Linked DNA regions of Homo sapiens. The protein of the gene in region 2 purifies or fractionates together with the protein of the main gene of each other region. This does not show direct contact. Each region holds a gene or a part of one and is shown on either strand. Other genes may lie near its edges.

Region 1 (4,800 bases), on a different chromosome or scaffold from region 2:
CCAGGCTTCCCCCTATCTCAATACTGAGAAGACTGAACATGTGGGGTGGTTGGTGAAAGGGTCCAAGCCTGTCTCACCTGCCAGACCATGAACTTCCCTAGGGCAAGGACCAAGTTTGATTTGCTTCTATTCCTTTTTCCTGTCCCAAGCCAGGGAAACTAGCCCTAAAGTTCTTGTGACTCTATGAGATACAGGGCAAAGAGAACACCTAGATCCACTTGTAAGGCCGGGCAGTCACTGAGGCCAGAGCCTGGCTGGGGAAAGGGCAGGGCCTCCGGAAGCCCCTCTTGGACCTGAGACTCGAAGAAGCTTATGACACAGAACCGGCAGCTGCTTCAGGAGGCAGGAAGTGCAGGCAGCTGCCTGCCCGCAGCCCTTCCCTGGGGGTGCAATGTCTCCTGTTGCCACCACCTTTCTTGCTCTTCAGAGCCCTTCTAAGATTCCCGGAGCCCAGAATTGCGGGCAGAGAAGGCCTCAGATGTCACCAAATACAAACGCACATTCTACCTCAGGGAGACGAGGCTCAGAGGGGAAAGTCCTTGACTACCCAACAGGCAGAGGGGAAGCGGGTGAATTTTGGAGTCTGGGGAAATGAGATAAGAGATAGGAAAGCACTTTCTGAACCAGCATGGGAATAATACACACGGGAAGTAAGGAGAAGATGTGTGACCCACCAGGGACCTACAGGATTCGAACCCAGCTGCCTTTGCCACTGTTCACTGCCTGGTGCCTCTCCCTACTCTGCTTTCCTCCCATGATCAGGTGGTGAAATGGAGTTGGATGGCAAGTCTTTGCTTCTGAAAAGGAAGCTGGGCAGTGGGTGTCCTGATAGCCCAGGACAGTGGGTGGGAGCTCTAAACTCTGGTCAAGGGCCAATTCCTCCAATTCCCTCCGACGGTAAGTCAGGCAATGCTGGGAGCTCAGAGCTGAAGGAGGCATGAAGACCCTGGAAGTGGAGCTCTGAGCACCGCCCTGGACTTCAAGCTTCTTCCTGGACTGGACTGGAGATCTGGGCATCCCAGTGCAGCCCTGCCCACCATCAGGCCCCCAGGCTTCTAGAGCAGGGGTCTTGGGCCCCTGAATGGAAAGCCAGTCTTGGGCTGTGGGCTTGGCAAACTTTGTGTCCTGGATCAAGTCTCAGGGGCTGGTGCCCCAGGGAGCCTTTGCCTATCCAGAGGCAGTATGCCTCTGCACTTGCCCGGGGGTAACACGCGGGGCACAGCACGGTGCCCCCCACACTGTAACAGTCAGTAAGTGGGTCCATGATGCTCTTTGCTGTGCTGACCAGCTGAGGGCCCAGTGGTCAGAACTTGGCTGGCACCAATAGGAAAAGGAATTTGCAAATGGGAGTTTTGAGCCCCTGACTGTCTGATCTTGGGCAGCCCACTCCCCTTAGCCTCAGTTTCGTTAGGGGTACAATAGGAACAGGGTGAACAATGCCTGGGAAGATTTAATGGGGTAGGGGGTCTCTGCACTCAGCACGCAGCCTGACACAGCTGGGGCTCCATCACAGGTCATTTTGTTGTTTCTGCTTTAAGTAAGGAATGCCCCAGGGGGTAAGGGCTGTGAGGAGGAGGCTATGTTTAGTGGCCCCTGCAGACAGAGAGGTTGTGAGGGAGGAAGGGCAAGGATGGGCAAGGCAGCTGGGCAGGTTTCAGGTTCACACAGGTGCCCAACTGACGGGGCATCCCTGGGCCTCCTGAGGCCCCTGTGAAGCTGCCTCCCTTGGAGGCTACATGGAGTCACTGTGCTGCATGGAGTAAGAAGAGCCACACGGAGGCCTGAGGCTGGGCAGGTCTCTTCCTCCCCCTACTCACCTTGGGGCTCTCAGGAGGAAGCGCAGAGCTGGACCAGGGGAGGAACACACCGGCTTGTGTTCCCTCCCTACCAGCTCAGCCACTGGCTCACTGTGAATTCACGCAAGTCACTGCCATCTTCAGGCCTCAGTGTTCACATCTGGGAAGTGGGTCAGCTGAACTCTTCTTGCTCTACCCGTCTTTGACTATATTTTGAAAATATCAATTATGCATTTTCTTTCCTCCTAGAGAAGTGATTGATTCAGTGCCTCAGACCTTTACTAAACTGATGATGTCTGGGACTCATTCATTAGGAAAAATTGACTTGCTAGTCAGGTCCAAGGCATGCACATCCACCAAACCAGTCCCTGTTTGCTCTGAGCTCGCTGTCTAGCAGGTCCTCACACACACAGCCACAATTCAGCGGGGCAAAGCTCTGAGAGGAAGCACAGTCAGGGAGGGCTCCCTGGTGGAGGAGGCCCTGAAGCTCAGTGTGAAGAGTTCATGTGTGGATCTGGTTGGGGATGGCATAACCAGCTCAGGGAGCAGGCCCCAGCAGTGGGTGTGGGAGCGCATGATGGGCAGTGGTCAGCTGTGGTCACTGCATGTGGGCTGGGGTGGGAGGTGGGGGACAGGTTGGCAGGGGCTACAAACAGCCTCGAAGGCCCTGCTGGGGATCCTGGACTTCACCGTGGAGAAGTTTAAGCCAAGCTGCCTCATTGTCAGAGTAGAGCTTTTGAGCAGTTGTCAGGCATTTAGCAGTGAGTGGGTCAGAACGGGTTGGCGGAGACAGAAGCTGGGGGCGGTGAGCCTGAGCCCGGTGATTGTGGAAGTCAGACCTTTTTCTGGGAAAGGCTGGGGTTCCTGGAGGCCTGGAAGAGAAGAGGGAGACCTGCATTTGCACAGGAAGAATTTTGGTCCCAGAAGGCACATCTGTGGAAGAACAAGAGTTCGGCCTTTTGTTGTTAAAAAACCTGGGTTCAAATCCCAGCTCTGCTCCTCACCAGCTGGGCAATCCTGGCACCTCCCTTCCCCTCCCTGAGCCTAGATTTCTGTAAATAGGGGTGATCGTATCAGATGGGCAGGCTGTGGTAAAGACCAATGGGACCATGGGCCTGAAAGTATTAACCAAGATGTCAAATGCTGAGTGGCTGCTGGGGAAGAACGTAAGAAAACAGAGTGGTTATGTGACTTCCTGGAGGTCGCACAGCACAAACACAGTCTCATCACCAAAGACTGTGGATTTGGCTCTGGCCATCTTTTCCCTGGCCCTTCCCACCTCCAGGGGCCCGGTCCCCTGACCCAGCCTGGGAAGAAAGCCACCTCCTAGGAGGTAACAGCAACAGAGAGGAAGCCACATCTCGGAAGCATCCACAAGGAAGGCAGGCCCCAGGACCCAGGCTCTGCCCATGACACGAGAGCCTGAATGAGGTCTGAGGCAGGGAGGCCAAGATAAAAACTGATGACAGAGCACAAATTACAGTTTTCCCTTTTGGAAACATTTCTCCCAAAGTGGAGAAATTCCCATCTACCACCAGAAATTTAACTATCTGTGCCCATAGAAGGGACCTAGGACATAGAATCAGGAGCCCTGGGTCCCAGCTCTGCCCTGCTGCTCACTGGCTTGGGGTCACTCTGTGGGATATATGGCTGTTTCCTGTAAGAGGGGTAATAATAAGTACAGGGTTTCTCTTTGTTAGTTTATTTGTCCTTCTATCTGTCTATCATCTCTCCATCTGTCCACCCATGGAACCTTCATCGAGTTCCTTCCTTAATGCCCATTACTGCGCTGGGTGCCCGAGATGGGGCAGGGAGCCGGATGGGTCATCCAGGCATGGGGTGATCAGGCTGCGGTGGGGGAAAGTTGAGCATTCTGGGAGTCCATGGGAGAAGGGTTCCCCAGCCAGGCAGGGTTCCTGGATAAACATGTCTGGTTTCATCCCCTACCGTGCCCACTTATGCCAGCTGTCTCCCCACCCTACCCCTCCCCAGGTGGACAAGAAGGTCTCGTGCCAGGTTCTGGGCCTGCTCCAGGTCCCCTCGGTGCTCCCGCCAGACACTGAGACCCTTGATCTATCTGGGAACCAGCTGCGGAGTATCCTGGCCTCACCCCTGGGCTTCTACACAGCACTTCGTCACCTGGACCTGAGCACCAATGAGATCAGCTTCCTCCAGCCAGGAGCCTTCCAGGCCCTGACCCACCTGGAGCACCTCAGCCTGGCTCACAACCGGCTGGCGATGGCCACTGCGCTGAGTGCTGGTGGCCTGGGCCCCCTGCCACGCGTGACCTCCCTGGACCTGTCTGGGAACAGCCTGTACAGCGGCCTGCTGGAGCGGCTGCTGGGGGAGGCACCCAGCCTGCATACCCTCTCACTGGCGGAGAACAGTCTGACTCGCCTCACCCGCCACACCTTCCGGGACATGCCTGCGCTGGAGCAGCTTGACCTGCATAGCAACGTGCTGATGGACATCGAGGATGGCGCCTTCGAGGGTCTGCCCCGCCTGACCCATCTCAACCTCTCCAGGAATTCCCTCACCTGCATCTCCGACTTCAGCCTCCAGCAGCTGCGGGTGCTAGACCTGAGCTGCAACAGCATCGAGGCCTTTCAGACGGCCTCCCAGCCCCAGGCTGAGTTCCAGCTCACCTGGCTTGACCTGCGGGAGAACAAACTGCTCCATTTCCCCGACCTGGCCGCGCTCCCGAGACTCATCTACCTGAACTTGTCCAACAACCTCATCCGGCTCCCCACAGGGCCACCCCAGGACAGCAAGGGCATCCACGCACCTTCCGAGGGCTGGTCAGCCCTGCCCCTCTCAGCCCCCAGCGGGAATGCCAGCGGCCGCCCCCTTTCCCAGCTCTTGAATCTGGATTTGAGCTACAATGAGATTGAGCTCATCCCCGACAGCTTTCTTGAGCACCTGACCTCCCTGTGCTTCCTGAACCTCAGCAGAAACTGCTTGCGGACCTTTGAGGCCCGGCGCTTAGGCTCCCTGCCCTGCCTGA
Region 2 (5,396 bases):
TTCCCCATGGAAATAGATATGGCACAACAGGACTACGACTAACCCACGTGACAATTAACACTTCTAAATGGGGCTCTTGTCAGAAGGCAGTTCGGTGTCAAAGCCAGGGCTGTTGGTTATGAAAGTCACTACAGAAGCAGTCTTTGACCTATAGTCCAAGGGCAATCTAGGCAGTTTATTTTAGTCAATCCTCAGTTTAGGCTGCGTTCAAGCCCTCAACAACTGAACACATGGCAATAGAACATGCCTTGTCACCCGCTGGTTCACACTCTTCCTAAGACTACTAAACTCAAAAGACTTTCCTAATGAACATAAACTGAGACTTAACTGAATTGGAGTGAATTAGGTTCAAGTGAAACAGAAGTCACCCTTACCTAATGCTATTTTGGGAAGCTGTGAAGAAAGGGCTTTTTCATTTATTTTATGGCATCCTCAACACTTTCCTGATTCCATCTGAGATTTAGAAACTTGAGCTCCCCAAAGCATGCTCAAGAGACTGCCAGTTTAAGCATTTAATCTCCACACTCCAGAGAATCATGACTAGGTTAGAGACTGAAATAAATCTCTAGACCTCTGGGAGTATTTTTCCATGAGCAAGGGCTGCTGTAGTCTTCTAAAAGTGGATGGAGGTCCTGGGTGATGTTAGGAGGGCAGGGAAATCAATTCTCTGGCCTGGCATTGTGGGCAGATGCTGTATCGGCACATAGGCATGGATTTCCTCTCACCTCTCATCATCCAACAACTCATCATCTAATACATGAAGTGACTTGAGCCCTTGGTATCGCCTCACTCTCCATGACTTTTGTCCAACTTACTTAAAGGTAAGCGTGGGGAAAGCCAAAACATTTTTATGTGTTTATAAACTAATATAAAATTCTGATAAGGAACCCACTTGAAATACTGGGTATGGACTAGAAAAGGTGGAATGTTCTTATACATGGAAGGTTAGTTATGGAAGCTGTAGCAGGAGGAGACTCCTTTCTTCTGTGAAATACGGTTGTCAGTTCCTGACATTTGGTTTGGGGGATTATCAATGAATTTTCTTAAACACATTCTATCTTTCTCTATAATATCAGTATAGATGGAAAGTTGGTTTGCTACAATGAAGAACAAAGGCCTTAACTTACTACTGGAGGGTTAATGAGTTAATCAGTTATTATTGACCAAGTCATCACTGGGCATTGAGAATTATAAACTGGGAACCTATTCCGTTCTTCCAATCCTTTCTCCCTTCACATATGTATATCCAACCATATCACTGTCCAAATGAATGAAACTCCCCAGGCCTTACCAGTCTCATTTTCACATGCAAACTGATTTTATCCCCCATGAGATTATCAATATAGACCCTTCCCTCCCCCACCTCATATGACCAAGTTTTGGTTACCTGCAAATCTTGCTTCTAGTTCTTCACTTTTATTTGGGATGATGTAATTATTAGATGGTACAAAAGTGCAGCAGGGACAGTGTAAGCTTATTTTAAATCCCAGGTTCCTGTCTGGAAAACATTAAGTCAAGGAGGTCATTTGTATGTGTGTCTATACCCTTAAATCTGCAATCAATTTAAAGTAACTTAGGGATACTGAACATCTTGGGAGGAAAAGAGAGAGTGGCTTGTAACCTTTATGGTGAAGCCATTCATGAACAGCATCAGTTACATCGAAGGAGAGCCATTCGCCTTCTGCTCTTGTTTTCACAACTTTGCTGTCGATGTAGCGCTGGGTTGGAGATGTTAAATCTTTGGACTTGAGAATCTGGAGGGGAAAAAGAGCAAGAGAAAAGGCTGAGTTGGCATTCTGACAGCATGACTAAACCAAAACTATTAACAGTGTTCTAATTCATTACCTAAATTTAGCTCTACTGTAGTATAGCCATGCATTGTCATCTCAATTGCATGGTCACATGCATAAAAACACAACACCAGGCTATTTGCCATGAAAAAATAGCTACTAAATCAGCTGCATGTTATGATAAAGGTGACAGGAACCATAAAGCCAAGTGTCTAAAAGAAAGTGACAGTAATTATTTTACTTTGCTGACATAAGCTTTGCAAGATTTCAGCCATAAATTCTATGCTATTAAGTTAATGGTTTTCTTGTTCTGCTTCCCTACTTATTTAATTTGGGGAGTTGGGGTACAGGAAGGGACAAGAGGAGAAGTCCAGTTCAGAGGACCCAGGCTCACTCTCAAAGGCCCTGAATTATAAATCTCCTTCTAATAAAGAAAGAACGGTCCTAACCTTGGTTTCCAAATCCATTGCCATTAAAATATGTGTCATGCCTCAGCTTTTGAGGTAAGTCCCTAGCTGGGATATTTTACTCTTAATGTGATTTGTTATGATTTATAAAGGTATTCCATCCCCTGCAGACTCAGAATGAATCTCAGCAGAAGTAGTTTGGTATGGTGCATAGATGAATATCTGAAAGCAAACCAGCCTAAACACTGAGGCTTTAGGAAGATGTATTTATCTCAGGCTGGGCGTGGTGGCTCACCGTAATCCCAGCACTTTGGGAGGCTGAGTTGGACGGATCACTTGAAGTCAGGAGTTCAAGACCAGCCTGGCCAACATGGTAAAACCCTGTCTCTACTAAACACAAAAATTAGCCAGGCACAGTGGTGGGCGCCTGTAATCCCAGCTACTCGGGAGGCTGAAGCAGGACAATCACCCGAACCCGGGAGACGGAGGTTGCAGTGAGCCGAGGTGGCATTACTGCACTCCAGCCTGGGTGACAGAGTGGGATTGCCTCTCAAAAACAAAAAAAATAAAGAAAAAGTTAACATTTCAAGAAAGGTGTATTTATCTCAAATGAGTAAAGCGCAACTGTAGTATGTTCCTAGGTTTCGAAAGGAAGTGAATATTTTAGGTGGTTTTAAAAAAATTCTATTTTGAAATGATAGTGGTTTTAGGAACTAAATCATGATTCTAAGTCTACTATAGTAAATCCCTACTGAAACCCTGTATGCTGCCTTTCCTCAGTACTTAGGGGTTCAAGCTGTCATTTTTGTACTACTCTTCCGGATTTTTGTACTACTCTGTTTTGTGGTCATTCCATACCTATGGGCTTGGTCTCTCCAGCAAATTCATAAAACTTCCCAGGTCAGGGATCATGTCTTCAATTTGATATCGTTTCAAACCATAGCACTCAATTGAATCAATATCTATTAAATGTTTATTTCAGTATCTAGAAGATTTATTAACTATCCTTTAAACCTTGTAAAACAAAAATGCATCATCTTTCCACTCATCTGAAAATGTACTTTCCTTCCATGTGTGTACATGATTTGTTTCAGGTAATTTGGCAACAGACGCTTCCTAAAATACTTGCCATAATGGTAGACTTTTTTCTGGATTAAGTAAATATAGAAAAGGAAGGAGATTCATACAATTAGACCCTTGGGTGCCCTCATGAATTTTACACAAGACTTATTCTACAGATCTGCCCCTGTGGTCCAAAACCTCCACTAAAAGAAGAGAATGTGGAGGCAACAATGGCTCTATGATAGGTAAGAAATGTTCTTTGCGAATTAAAGAAAGCAGATAAACATGACTTGAGGGCTGGGTACACTACGCTCTGGGCTTGGCATGCATTATTTTATTTTATTTAATCCTCAAAATGTTCCTGTAGGGTAGATTAAGGAAGCAAACTCAAGGAGGTTAACTAACTTGCCCAATGCCTCCCAGTGAACAAGTGTGAAGAGATGATCCAACTCAATCCCGAGTCATTTTCCCACTTCAGTGCTGGATTTTTAAAGGCCAAACAAGTTATTGAGTCAAGAAAACATTCAATGACAGAGGCAAAGATTTTTAAATAAGATTAAAATAAATGCTGGTACAAGATGAAAATATAAGATAGTGGAACGTATACACAATGAATGTTGGCATAAAGCTACAGCTTTAAAGATACAGCTTAATAGCAGTCCATCTCCTAGGAATCAAACCTTGCCTTGAAAATACTCCCAGTTGGGAAAGTAAGACATCACTTATCTAATTCTGAATAAATGGTATAATTAACCTACTATGGAACAGGAATAAGAAAAACAATGGTTGAGAAGCAGTTTTCAGGCATTCTGATCTGCCTCATTGACTAAAAACTGGTAACATTCACAGAACTCATCGTTTTGTCTCTAAATTCTTCCCCTAGCTAATCTGCAACAGTGCATTTTTACAAAATGCTTTGCATATTTCTGTGCTGCTAATTAGCACAGTGTATTATCTTATTCACATAGCTAACATTTAGACATACTACCTAGAACTAAACATTGTCTCCATTGCTGAATTAATTACTTATGATATACATGTCAAATGTCTATGACATATACATACATATACATGTATATATGTGTGTATATATATGTCCAGTTTCACTAAAGACACAGAATTTTTAAAAATTATGGCCATATCGACCAAATAAGCAGAAAAGACACATAATGCCAAATCTATATAAATCTTCCACCTTATAGAAAAGGAGTACATTTAGATTATCTTACTTGGAAAGAGTCCAAAGAGCAGCAAAGAGACTCTGAAGCTTTTTCTCTTTTAAATCCTACTAGGAGAACTACGATAAGAGCTTCCTCAACCACAGAGCACTGGTAGGCTCAGAAAACAGACAATCTCATCCTCTCACTTGGGTGAAAGGTCCTCTGGATCTTTTTCACTAGCTCCAGACTCATGAACAGGCCACATATAAACCACCCAAGAAATACAGTTAGTTAGCTACATAATTCTCAAACACAGTAGCGACTTTTGTCTGGTGGATTTGTTGTCTTGAACTTCATGGCCAAAGAGTTCTTAACCCACTTGTTGCATGTTAACTCCATTCTTCTTATCCAGTCCTTAGTGGAAACAGGAAACAGCTGCTTTCCATCACTCAGAGAATATCCCTCATATTCTTGGAGACTATGATTAAGTCCCCCTCAGCGTGCTTGCTTGCTTTCTCTAAACTAAATAAACCCAGTTCCTTTAGACCATATTTAAAGGTGTAATTTCCCAAACCTTTAATCATTTGGGTTGCTAACAAGGATGAATGATGCTATATAAAAGTATTCCTCCTACAGCTTCATGATTTTGCTTCAGAACTATCTAGAAAACCTTCTAATCACATCGTAAAGTCTTGAATCTTAACTTGAAAGGTATCTTCTTCCTAAGAATAGGCACAACCTCACTATCCTCTGTTTATCTCCCATTTATCACCCACACTAAATTGAACTGTAAGAGAAGAAGGCATGGAAAATCAACCTGCTGCTTACATTCAAAAGTTTATACAGGAAGTGACCAGATCAGTCAACTTCCCATTCTATTTTAGCCTTTGCTGTCTGTCTTTCTCAGGTCTCCAAACAACAAGAGTATTGAATGTTAGTAGTTGTGGATATGTAGCTGTTAATTGTTTTTCTAGATT

Evidence for each region. The genes of interacting proteins can lie anywhere in the genome.
Region 1: the proteins of TGFB2 (region 2) and LRRC32 purify together in Homo sapiens (co-immunoprecipitation; one large-scale study listed by IntAct). This does not show direct contact.

What each region holds. Positions count from the first base shown.
Region 1 is NC_000011.10:76,660,497-76,665,296, reverse strand, and holds part of LRRC32 (transforming growth factor beta activator LRRC32 isoform a precursor), read left to right. Parts: intron 1-1,430; exon of another isoform or gene 1,431-2,668; intron 2,669-3,788; coding exon 3,789-4,800.
Region 2 is NC_000001.11:218,430,440-218,435,835, reverse strand, and holds part of TGFB2 (transforming growth factor beta-2 proprotein isoform 2 preproprotein), read right to left. Parts: intron 1,755-5,396; coding exon 1,622-1,754; intron 1,499-1,621; coding exon 1,388-1,498; intron 1-1,387.